Regions from separate parts of the Homo sapiens genome. Here region 1 is linked to region 2. Evidence: fine-mapped expression QTL. A gene starts in region 2. The other region holds a variant in brackets. All regions are shown on one strand. Distances are between the middles of the regions.

What was found.
Region 1: its variant is fine-mapped to the expression of LINC03082 in aorta (GTEx, PIP above 0.99). The same link has a PIP of 0.9 or more in coronary artery, lung, prostate, subcutaneous fat, tibial artery and tibial nerve.

The regions. Positions count from the first base shown.
Region 1 is chr13:110,054,260-110,059,635 of GRCh38, forward strand. It overlaps LINC03082 (long intergenic non-protein coding RNA 3082), which reads right to left. Exons shown (of 3, transcript NR_187462.1): 2 at 1,851-1,969. It overlaps LINC00396 (long intergenic non-protein coding RNA 396), which reads left to right. Exons shown (of 4, transcript NR_126387.1): 4 at 514-693. Among named protein-coding and RNA genes, the nearest start is that of LINC00396, 3.7 kb to the left of the region's middle. The variant A/G (reference allele first, on the strand shown) is at 3,100.
Region 2 is chr13:110,126,681-110,132,056 of GRCh38, forward strand. It overlaps LINC03082 (long intergenic non-protein coding RNA 3082), which reads right to left and starts at 2,456. Exons shown (of 3, transcript NR_187462.1): 1 at 2,177-2,456. LOC101927712 (a long non-coding RNA gene) reads right to left here. Exons shown (of 3, transcript XR_931726.3): 3 at 5,282-5,376. RefSeq lists enhancers at 1-226, 227-1,034.

The DNA.
Region 1 (5,376 bases), 72 kb before region 2:
GTGTCCCTGTTGAATGCAGGTGTGCAGTGCGGTCTCCCCAACCTTCTGCGTGGGCTACTCTGGACTCTCCGTTCTGCTCAAAGTGTTCTTTGTTCTCCATGAGGCTCAAGGGGACTCTCCGCAGATTTCTTCAGATCCTGTCAGACACCCACTGCAAACCTTGCCACCTCCTCACACACCCCAACCTCTACCATCTGTCCGCAACTCCATGAGGCCACCATGCTGTACATGGGCTCCACCCGCTCATGCCACAGTCCAGAGAGAGCATCTCAGCAATCCCAGAGCACACCCCACGCACCCGCCAGGAATCCCACCCTTGGCTGTGGTCCTCAGTGTCTGAAAACAGGTGCTTCATGCATTCTGTTCAGTTTCTACTTGTTGATGTGGAGAGGGATACTTCAGCACCAGTACTCTGTTGTGTCTCATAAATGGGTCCTAATTAGTATTTTCTTACTTTCTGGAAACAAAAGTTTGGTCACTTACTGTGTTTTCCTTTTTCTTCTTTTTTTTCAGGCTTTCAGGAAGCTCCTCAGAGGTGAATCAGATAATGAAGCAGAACAAGATCTGCCCTTGTGAATTGCTTATTTGATTGCCATCATCTTAATTTTAATTTTATTATAAAGTGTGTAGGCAACACAGTTGAAGAAAACTGTGAAGCCACAGGAGCCTAAGCAATAGATTCGATTCCTTCCATTTGACTCCATTGTCATCCTTCCACTTCATATCCCTATCCCATCCTACCTGGTCTCATAGTGACTGTCGAATCCCCCTTAGCCTGCATTCTGAACAAATGCACCTAGTTGGATTCCTCTCTCATCCTTGCAAAAACAAAACAAATAAAGCAGAAACACCCTTTGCTCATGTTTCTACCAAAATAAGCATTGCCTGTGAGCTCTATGTGCCTTACTTGTGTTGTGCCCTCTGCAGCGCCCAGCAAGATGCCTGATCCACAGTCAGCAGACAACAAACAGCTTCAAGGCTCTGTTGGGTCAGGGCAGTCTTTAGATGAAAACCCTGCTCAGTGAGGAAACCACAGTCTCACCACAACGGGGCATTCCAGGAGCTTGTCTGTGTCAGCATAGATGTTCGCCTCTGCACAAGGTGTTGTGAATTACTGTACTTGCCCTTCTTCTCTATCTAGGTCATTTTTCTTTTCCAATGGTGCCTTTAATTTAGATTTGGGAGGGGTTAAGATACTGGCAGCTCTTTGTTCTTTGAGCTTATAAAACAATGACAGAGCTAGAGTGTTCTTCTGAGCAAGGCGATCTGCTGGTTGATAATGATGATATGAGAGAGAAATAGCAGATGTGTTTTAGTGTCAACACTGAAGGACATTCCGAAGGCCTCATCCCTAGCTCAGACATAGGGCTCCACGCAGCTGCTGATCTTGTCCATTACTGTATCAGTCAGGTTTCTCCAGAAAAACAGAACCAACAGGAGATGAGAGAGAGGACAATTTTAAGAAATTTGCCATGCGATTGTGCGGCGGCCGAATCCAAAATCAGTGGTGCAGGTCAGCAGCTGGAAACTGAGGCAGGAGCCAGTGCTGCCATGTTGAGGTGGAACGTCTTCCTCTATGGAAACCTCTGTCTTTAACAGTAAGGCCTATGGCTGGCTGGGTGAGGCCCACCCACATTACAGAGTGTAATCTCCTTTACTTCAAGTTAACTGATTGCAGAGACTGAGCACATCTGTAGAATACTTTCACAGCAACACCTAGATCCGTGCTTGATTAAATACACGTAAAGAATTGCTTATGGAGGCATCCATATAAACAAGTTTTAAAGGGATTGGTTTTAAGTTTCATGGCAAAAAATACAGAAGGTAATTAACGTACAGAAAATATTTACCCTTGGTCAAGTGCAGTGGCTCATGCCTGTAATCCCAGCACATTGGGAGGCTGAGGCAGAAGGACTGCTTGAGGCTAGGAGTTCAAGACCAGTCTGGGCAACGTAGGGAAACCTTGTCTCTAAAAAAAAAAAGAAAAAATTTAAGTAGCTGGGCATGGTGGTGTACGCCTGTAGTCCCAGCTACTGGGGAGGGTGAGCTGGAAGGATCACTTGAGCACAGGAGGTCAAGGCTGCATTGAGTCATGATGGCACCACTGCACTCCAGCCTGGGCAACAGAGCGAGACCCTGTTTCAAAGAAGGAAGGAAGGAAGGAAAGGAAGGAAAGGAAGGAGAAAGGAAGGAAGGAAAGAATATTTACCCTTGGCAGTCATCAAAGAAATACAAATTCAAACAAGATTCCACTTTTCACTTTTCAAATGGATGAGATGTTGTTCTTCGTCGGATATTTTTAGACCCCTTATTGTCCCTAAAGTCATGTTCATGGACTGTCATCCCTCACTTTTTCCGTAACAACATTTCATCCCAAATTTCTTAGGTGTCTTGATTTTCTGTCAAATTGAGGCAGGAGAGGAAAGAGACTGGGTCCTGCAGACATGTGACAAAGCAACACAGGTCCTGATGGCCCTCACACATCCGGGCACGTTCCCTCCCCCACTTGCACCCCTTAACAAGTAGACTGAGTCACGGAGCAGGAAGGGGTGGAGGTGCTCCTAAATCTGCTGACCAGGCTGAATTCCTGACCATACAAGGAAGGACCTATCTATCTCTTTGAGTGATGCCTTCTGAGGTCACTGAAACAGGACTCTGGCATTCCCTATAAGGACCTGACCAGGTCCAGCTGCCTGAAGACCAGAGGGACTGCAGCCTGACCCTCACGCCTTTCTCCTCATTTGAATGTCATCGTAATATTAAAATCACTGCCCAGGGTGGGGCTCCTCTGCCATTTTCTGGTCACCCGATGCAAGTTAAAGCATGAAGTCCCACTGCGCAAGCAAAGAAAAGACAAAGGCCTCACCTGAACATGCATGGACGTCACTCTGTTCCCACCTCACCTTCCTGCCGGTGACACGCTGGGGGGCTGGTGTCCAGATCCTTTTCCCGCAGCTGCTCCGTGTGCCCAGCCCCAGCCTGTGAGCCCAGCCTGGGAAGAATCCCCAGCTGGCCTGGTGTCACCATCCACTCACACAAGAGCCAAAGAACTCAAGGTCCGGATGCAGTCACAAAATAAGCTCTTTTCTTAGCTTCTAT[A/G]AAAAGCCAGGGAGGGAGGGGTTTTCAGTCACTGGGAGGAACAAGAAACCAAATAACCAAAAAGAGGCAGCCGAGCCCTGGAGCTGCCACACATCCAGCAAACATCATCAGACCCTTCGGGATGCCAGGACAGAGGTCAGAACCCAGAACCCCAGGATGCCAAGATCGAGGTTCCTTCCCTCACCGAATTATTTTTAAAGTTGATACAGTGTAACTGAAAACATTAAATTATATGTGACCTGCAGACACCAAAGCCATCCTGAAATGTAGGAATCTCCCAAGCCCTGGGCTGCCCTCACCTGCCGCCTGGCTGTACTGCCCTCCTGGGCTGTGATCATATATGCATGCGAGGATCTCAACAAAGTAATCCTGTCCTCAGCACACGCAAAGCCTTAGTTCACTGCACCCCTCTGGCGTACGGCAGGGCTATGATACCCCTTAAAATTGTCCTTGATGAGATAAAGAATTGAAGGAAAAAATCAGCAAAAACCTTTTTTCTTTCTCTTGCAAATAAAAAGTATGACCAACATAGCAAGAGAAAAGAGTGGGAGAACAGAATCAAAGTAGCTTTAAAAATACATCATCTCCCAGAAGTCAGGAAGAACATGATTAGCATATATGACTATGCAAACATCAAACAAATTAAACTAATGCATGCTTTTAAAATACCATAAACAAATTAAAAATCCACTTAAAAATATTTACAACATAGAAAACATATCAAGACCCAATTTCCTTACTATGCAAATACTACTCACAAATTGACAGAAGAAAAAAACTTAAATCACCTTACATAAAAATAAGTAAAGTTTAAAAACACAGACAAACATTAAAATATGTACACATTTAACATATAATTATAAAGGAACTTTAAATAAAAAGAAGACATAGGTTTTTACCTGCTAGACAAAAAACGAGATAAAGAGCTTGGTAATTTTCAGTGAGGCCAGGAATAAACAAACATCCTTTCACTTGAGTGGAATTGGCTACAGCCTCCGTGCAGGGCATTTTTACAGTAGCAATCAGTGATTCAAAATGCAAGCCCCCCTTATACTAGTGATTCCACTTCCAGAAATGTACTTAATACTTGATCAAGGCTGCAGGTATATGTTGTACAATGTTCCCTGCAGCAATTTCCTGAAGCTGGAAAAACAGTTGGAAGGAAGCTAAGTGTTCACAAATAGATGTCTGTTAAAATTATTATAGAATGTCCTCCCAAACAGCACACGGTCTTTTAAAAGAATGAGGTAGACATATATTTGCTGACATGGAAAATGGTCCAAGTAATATTCCGTGAAGGCAGGGAGCAAATTGCAGAAGTAGAATAGCATTTGAGTAAACATTTCTGGAAGGATGCTCACCAAAAAATGTCCAGAGTGGTGAGCTTGTAGGGACAAGGCAGGGATTCAGAAAGAAATGTTGCTTTTCACTTTGTGCCATTCAGTAACATTTGAAACTTTGTCCATAAGCATACATACATTACTTTTGTAATAAAAAACTAACTTAAAATTTTAAAAAATTAAAACAATAAAACAGATATTGAAAGTATATTAACATACTGATATATTTTAACAGCTCTGAATTTTGAGAAATGTCTTGGCTTGAAAGGTCATTAAGGGTGAAAAGAGACTACTGAATATGATATTTTTAGTAGAATCCCTTGTTAAATGGGATACCCACTACTATTAGTTAGGATATAAAGATAAATATTAATATAATACTTACAGGCACATGCCTGTAATCCCAGAACTTTGGGAGGCTGAGGCAGGTGGATTGCTTGAGGCCAGGAGTTCAAGACCAGCCTGGCCAACATGGTGAAACCTCGTCTCTATCAAAAATACAAAAAAAAAAAATAGCCAGGCATAGTGGCACGTGCCTGTAATCCCAGCTACTCGGGGGGCTGAGGCATGAGAATCACTTGAACCCGGGAGGTGGAGGTTGCAGTGAGCAGAGATTGAGCCGCTACACTCCAGCTTAGGTGACAGAGTAAGACTCCGTCTCAAATGGAAGCCCCCTTTAATAGTCTGCATTATAATATTGACTAATATTTGTAACACTTTGATTCACAACTACACTATTGAAGGCACTACTGAAGGCACTTCACTACTGAAGGAAGATATCTGCCATAGTTACTGGCAATTTATTTTACCCCCTTACCTTAAATTTTACATTATTGTTCCCTCTTAAAAATGATACAGTCATCACAGTTCTTTCATTTTGCCAGATGTGAACCTTTTATCCAAAGGGAGTTTTGAAAATGATGTAGATTTTTCTTCT
Region 2 (5,376 bases):
GCCTTCAACAAGTCCTCCCTGGAGGAGGGGCAGTAAGCAGAAGGCAGTACAAGTGGCACATTCTCCTTCTAATGAGCACAGCACACTAACGTCTCTCGGAGGGGGCCCAGCTCTCCTCACGTTCCTCTGGGCCCAGGCTCCCTGCCAGCCTTTTCTCTTCCCCAGAGCATTCAATCGCTGTCAACAGAGCCAGACAAGAATAGAAGCCGCTCAGAGACTCTCTTTTGTTTTGCTGGGACACTTCAGCACATTCTCATGGATCCTTCAAAGGAAGGCAATTATCTGATCATTCTTGGGAGCAATTAAAATGTGGAAGGATACATCCTGCTTCAACCCGCCGAGTTTGTCTTTCCAAATCACATGGGCAATTGATTACACCATCAACAAACCCCATGTAACCCTCCAAGGAACGAGGTGCGTCCCTTGCAGTAGAAAACCGATAACCCAAGACATGAAGGTTCGAATGGATGATTGGCTTAGCTGGAATTGTGCTCCTCTGGAGGAGACTTTTTAAATGTATTCCTAGTTGCAAGTCCAGAAGCAAGGGAAGTGAGGCCCTCAGGGTTCTATCAGAGCCTGGGAAGGGGAGGAGAGCAGAGATGCTAAAGCAGTAGCAGAAGATCCACAGACCCCTGGAAGGACATGGAAGCTCGCTTTGAGCTGCTCCTTAGTTCATGGGGGTCTCTCCAGCATAAAGAGCTTCCTTCCTAAAATGGGAAGAGGGCTGTTTGCACAGAGAGAAGCGTAGCCTTAATACTGTACTTTGTCCATCCCTCCAGAAAGCCCAAGGGAGGGGGCAGATGGTTCATCTGCAAGTGATCCCAGGCCTAAAGCAAAGAGATGGATGGTCGGAGCCTCCGCGCGGTTTTTCCTGGCTACCTCCATACCACCATGTCACCTCTCTGTAAAGGCGATATAGGGAGCACCATCTGGGTGTTGTAGCTCATCTGGCTGTTGTAAGGAGTAAATGAGATGGGACGTGCCACACACATGATATGTGCCCGGCTCACAGGAGGCACCTTAGTAAGTGGTCACCATCAGATATACTAGTGAACCTGAGAGTGGCCCTTACCAACGTGGAAGGCTGGGGTGTTTGTAATCATCACTCAAGGCAAAGCAGAAAGAAATCTAGGCTATTTTTTAAGACTCATTGTGTTTGGTCACAGGCAAAAATAGAATCCATCCTCATGCAACCATCCTTTAAATAGTATTTCAACAGAGGGTTAAAGTGTTGGTTTGGGGTGTGAGAGTGATACCTTATTCATTCAGAAGTCCCTCAAAGAAGAGGATGGAGAAACAGACACGATTCCATGAAATGATCACTTTCCCCAGGCAATCACACCAAGGAAGGTCAAAGAACCTCCTCCCCGAAGGTTCACTGCTGGAGGTGGAGATCACAGCCAACTGACAATATAACTGCTGGCAGATATTTTTAGGTGGAAAGTCCCACCGTTTCCCGTACCTCACTGTGACCCTCATTACGGCATTAGGATGGGATTACCTTGCTCTCTTCTGAAATACTAGCTTATCCGTGGCACCAGCAACAAATACAAGCAGCTTGTCTGATGGAAAGGTCCTCTACTTAAGAACTAAACTTCCCCCAAATCACAAGCCCCTTTGCTGAAACAATGAAAAATTTAGGTAAGCTCTGGATTGAACTATTTCCCTCCCTTTGAAATAACTGGATGTTTAGTCATAACAAATAAGAATGATTCTGGTATCTTGTGGTCACGACATAGCATTTTTATGTTTTTTTTTTTTTATTTTTCACTTTACATCTCACTACATGGACATGCTACCTTCAATTCAACCCCAGGTTACATCAAAACCTCTTGACCTTTCATTTAAAGACAAATAAAAGGCAGCTGCTGGGCTGTGAAATTGTGAATAACAAACGGAACCATTATTTGAAAGGTTTCAAATTCTGATGAACAGAAAGATTATTTTGGAAAATCTATAGCGGAGAGTAGTATAATTATAACTTAGATTTGCGTGGTGCTCAATCCAAACTCATCTCCAAACTGAACGTGGTTTTCTAACAATAACATTCCTCCAAAAAAGGGGGCAGCCTACAAACCAACATAAGCGTAAGATGCACTTCCTGTCCAGCTAAAAATAAACCTGCAGACATTTGAAAGCAGCATAGAATCCTTTCTAACAATAAAAACAAACTCACCCATGTCGTTGGGCCAAGGCTTTGACATTTTAAAAATCATTATGGTGAAAAATAAACGCAACCTATAACGTGAGCTATTGTTAGAAATCCTTGAGAAAAATGCCTCAAATAGAGAACTCGAACGTCCACTCGCTAAAAATGAAACCGTTTTACTTGGGCATTGTCAAAGGTCGAATGGTTTTCTCCAAAAATGATGTTGAAGTCCTAACCCCCAGGACCTCAGAATGTCACCTTATTTGGAAATAAGGTCCTTGCAGATGTAATTAATTAGAACGAGGTCACATTGGAATGGGGTGGGCCCCGCATCCAATAAAACCACTGTCCTTATAAAAAAGAGGCACGCCACGTGAAGACCGAGACACACAAGAAGAACACGGGGTGTGGCTGAAGGCGGAGGTTGTGACGACGCATGTACAAGCCTGCAGGAGCATCCGCGAGCACCGCTGGCCCCACCGGAAACCGGGAAGAGGCAGGACAGCTTCTACCCCGAGCCTCAGAGACAGTCTGGCCTTGACATCACCTTGATCGTAGAATTCCAGCCTCCAGAATGGTGAGACACAAATTCCTGTTATTTTCAGCCAGGCAGTTTGTGGCACTTCGTTTCAGCAGCCTAGGAAGTGAATATATTCACTTCCATATACGTGAAATTGACATCAGTGAGGATTTGCTCTCTAGGCAGTAGATGTGAACCGGCCTTCAACGATTTTTTTTTTTCTGGCTGCATGTTGGGCGCTCCCAGCTTAGGGGGTGGGTGTGCAGGGAGTGGGGAGGGAGGCGCTTCTGCTTCTGTGGCTCTCCCATGGTCTCTTCCCACAACATCTTCTGCATCTCTGTGGATCCGGCTGCCCCCAGCGCAGCAGCCCGGGTGGGGTGGGAATGTCCAGCACTGCGTCGCTGCCAGCCCTCTGGGCGTTCCAAGTTCCTGGCAGGATCCGGATGCAGTGTGGTTGACCTTAACTACCCAGGAGAGGGTGAGCTCTCCTACAGAAGACTTGGACATCTTCTCTGCCTTCTCATTTCTGTGTCCACAAAAAATCAGCACAATGGACACTGGATCCTGCTCTCCCTTCCTTCTCTTTCCCACCAACGCACACTTTGGCAGTCCTGGCACCAGCATGGGATCCACCCCACGCACACCCACATGCACCCCACACTCACCTCCAGGGAAGAAGCACATCAGTGAGAGGAATGGCTCTGTCCTCAACTCAGTAGGAGCCAGCACCCACCCCTCCCCTCTGTTGCCACTTCAAAAGGTTTTCTTTGTTCGCTTGTTTCTACTTACCATTAATGTTCTTCAGGCTGGATAAGCTTTAAGGTGTGTCCCTTGACATATTAGATCTATTTTACTCTGCCATTTTATAATTAAACAGGGTCTGACTGAAGTTACCTTTGGCCCATGTATGTCTAATCCTACCAAGTCCTAGCCATGAAACAGGTGATATGTGTATAAATGAAAACAGTGGGTTAAGAGGATGCTTCCAGAAGTATTAAGGCACCCACGCACACACACAGACAAATACGCTCCACTGAAGATCATTTAGAACTGTGGGTACAGGGAAGCACTTAGAGAACTGTATTACAAGAAGATTCAGTGGAAAATCTACCACCAATCCTAATTCATTTCCCTACAGAACCTTAGTGTGCAGTTCGTAGCCCACCTTCAGCACCTGTATGGGATTGGGGCCACTGAGTATTCTGTGTACACATTCGTCATGGTCTTTTAAAATCACCCTCATTGTTGCTGGCTTCTGACTGCCTCTCAGCTGTGCATTAGTCAGGATGCTGCAGCGAACAGCTGACATTAAGGACCTTAGGATGAAGGGACATTTTACCAAGATAGGGGCAGAGTTTAGGAAAAGCAGTAATGTTTAGTCCACTAAACCAGGGGTCACCAGCCTCAGGGCTGCAGAGAGGGGGAAGAAGTCTTATCCATGGCCCTGGAGGGCAGCCCCATAGTGTTTTGTTTTGTTTTGTTTTGTTTTGTTTTGTTTTGTTTTGTTTGAGGTGGAGTTTCAGTCTTGTTGCCCAGGCTGGAGTGCAATGGCGTGATCTCGGCTCACAGCAACAACAAACGGCTTAGCTGGAATTGTGCTCCTCTGGAGGAGACTTTTTAAATGTATTCCTAGTTGCAAGTCCAGGAGCAAGGGAAGTGAGGCCCTCAGGGTTCTATCAGAGCCTGGGAAGGGGAGGAGAGCAGAGATGCTAAAAGAGTAGCAGAAGATCCGCAGACCCCTGGAAGGACATGGAAGCTCGCTTTGAGCTGCTCCTTGGTTCATGGGGGTCTCTCCAGCATAGACAACTCCCTTCCTAAAATGGGAAGAGGGCTGTTTGCACAGAGAGAAGCAGTAGCCTTAATACTGTACTTTGTCCATCCCTCCAGAAAGCCCAAGGGAGGGGGCAGATGGGAGGAGGCTCCACCTCCCGGGTTCAAGCGATTCTCCTGCTTCAGCCTCCCGAGTAGCTGGGATTACAGGCATGTGTCACCATACACGGCTAATTGTGTATTTTTAGTAGAGATGGGGTTTCTCCAGGTTGGTCAGGCTGGTCTCGAACTCCCGACCTCAGGTGATCCACCCACCTCGGCCTCCCAAAGTGCTGGGATTGCAGGCGTGAGCCACCATGCCCGGTGGGCAGCCCTATAGTTTGAGAAGGTGGTGACCAGAGCTGCAGCTTCCAGCAGAGAAACCCAACACCCCACAGCACCCTAACAGGAGACCCTGAGTAAACACCTCCTCTGTCCTCCTCCTGCTGCTGTTGCCCCCCATCCAGCCCCTGTTGGCCAGACGCCACCGGACCCAGGCACAACGGTGTCTGCTTCTGAGGTGCGGGCCGCCTCCCGGAGGGAACAGCAGGCGGAGAAGCTGATGCTGGGCTGCAGAGGATGCCTTTCTGAAAGCTCCAGTTATCAGTGGACAGAGACAGCAGCTAACCAATGCCTGTCAGGGAATCCCAGTCGGCATTTTCCTTTTCCTTTTGGAATTGAGCTTCTCAGGAAGAGTCTACAGTTCCCCACACTGAGTCTTATTCAGCAAACCACAGGACCCCAGGCAATCTCAAACGAATGCCTCTTTTTTTTTTTGAAATTCAACATTTTAATTGTGATATAACTTATGTAAAAACTTTCCAAAAAGTATCTAAGATATTCCACTGTACAACACATCAAAACTTTATCTGAGAAGCTGGAGACAATGAAGTATAAA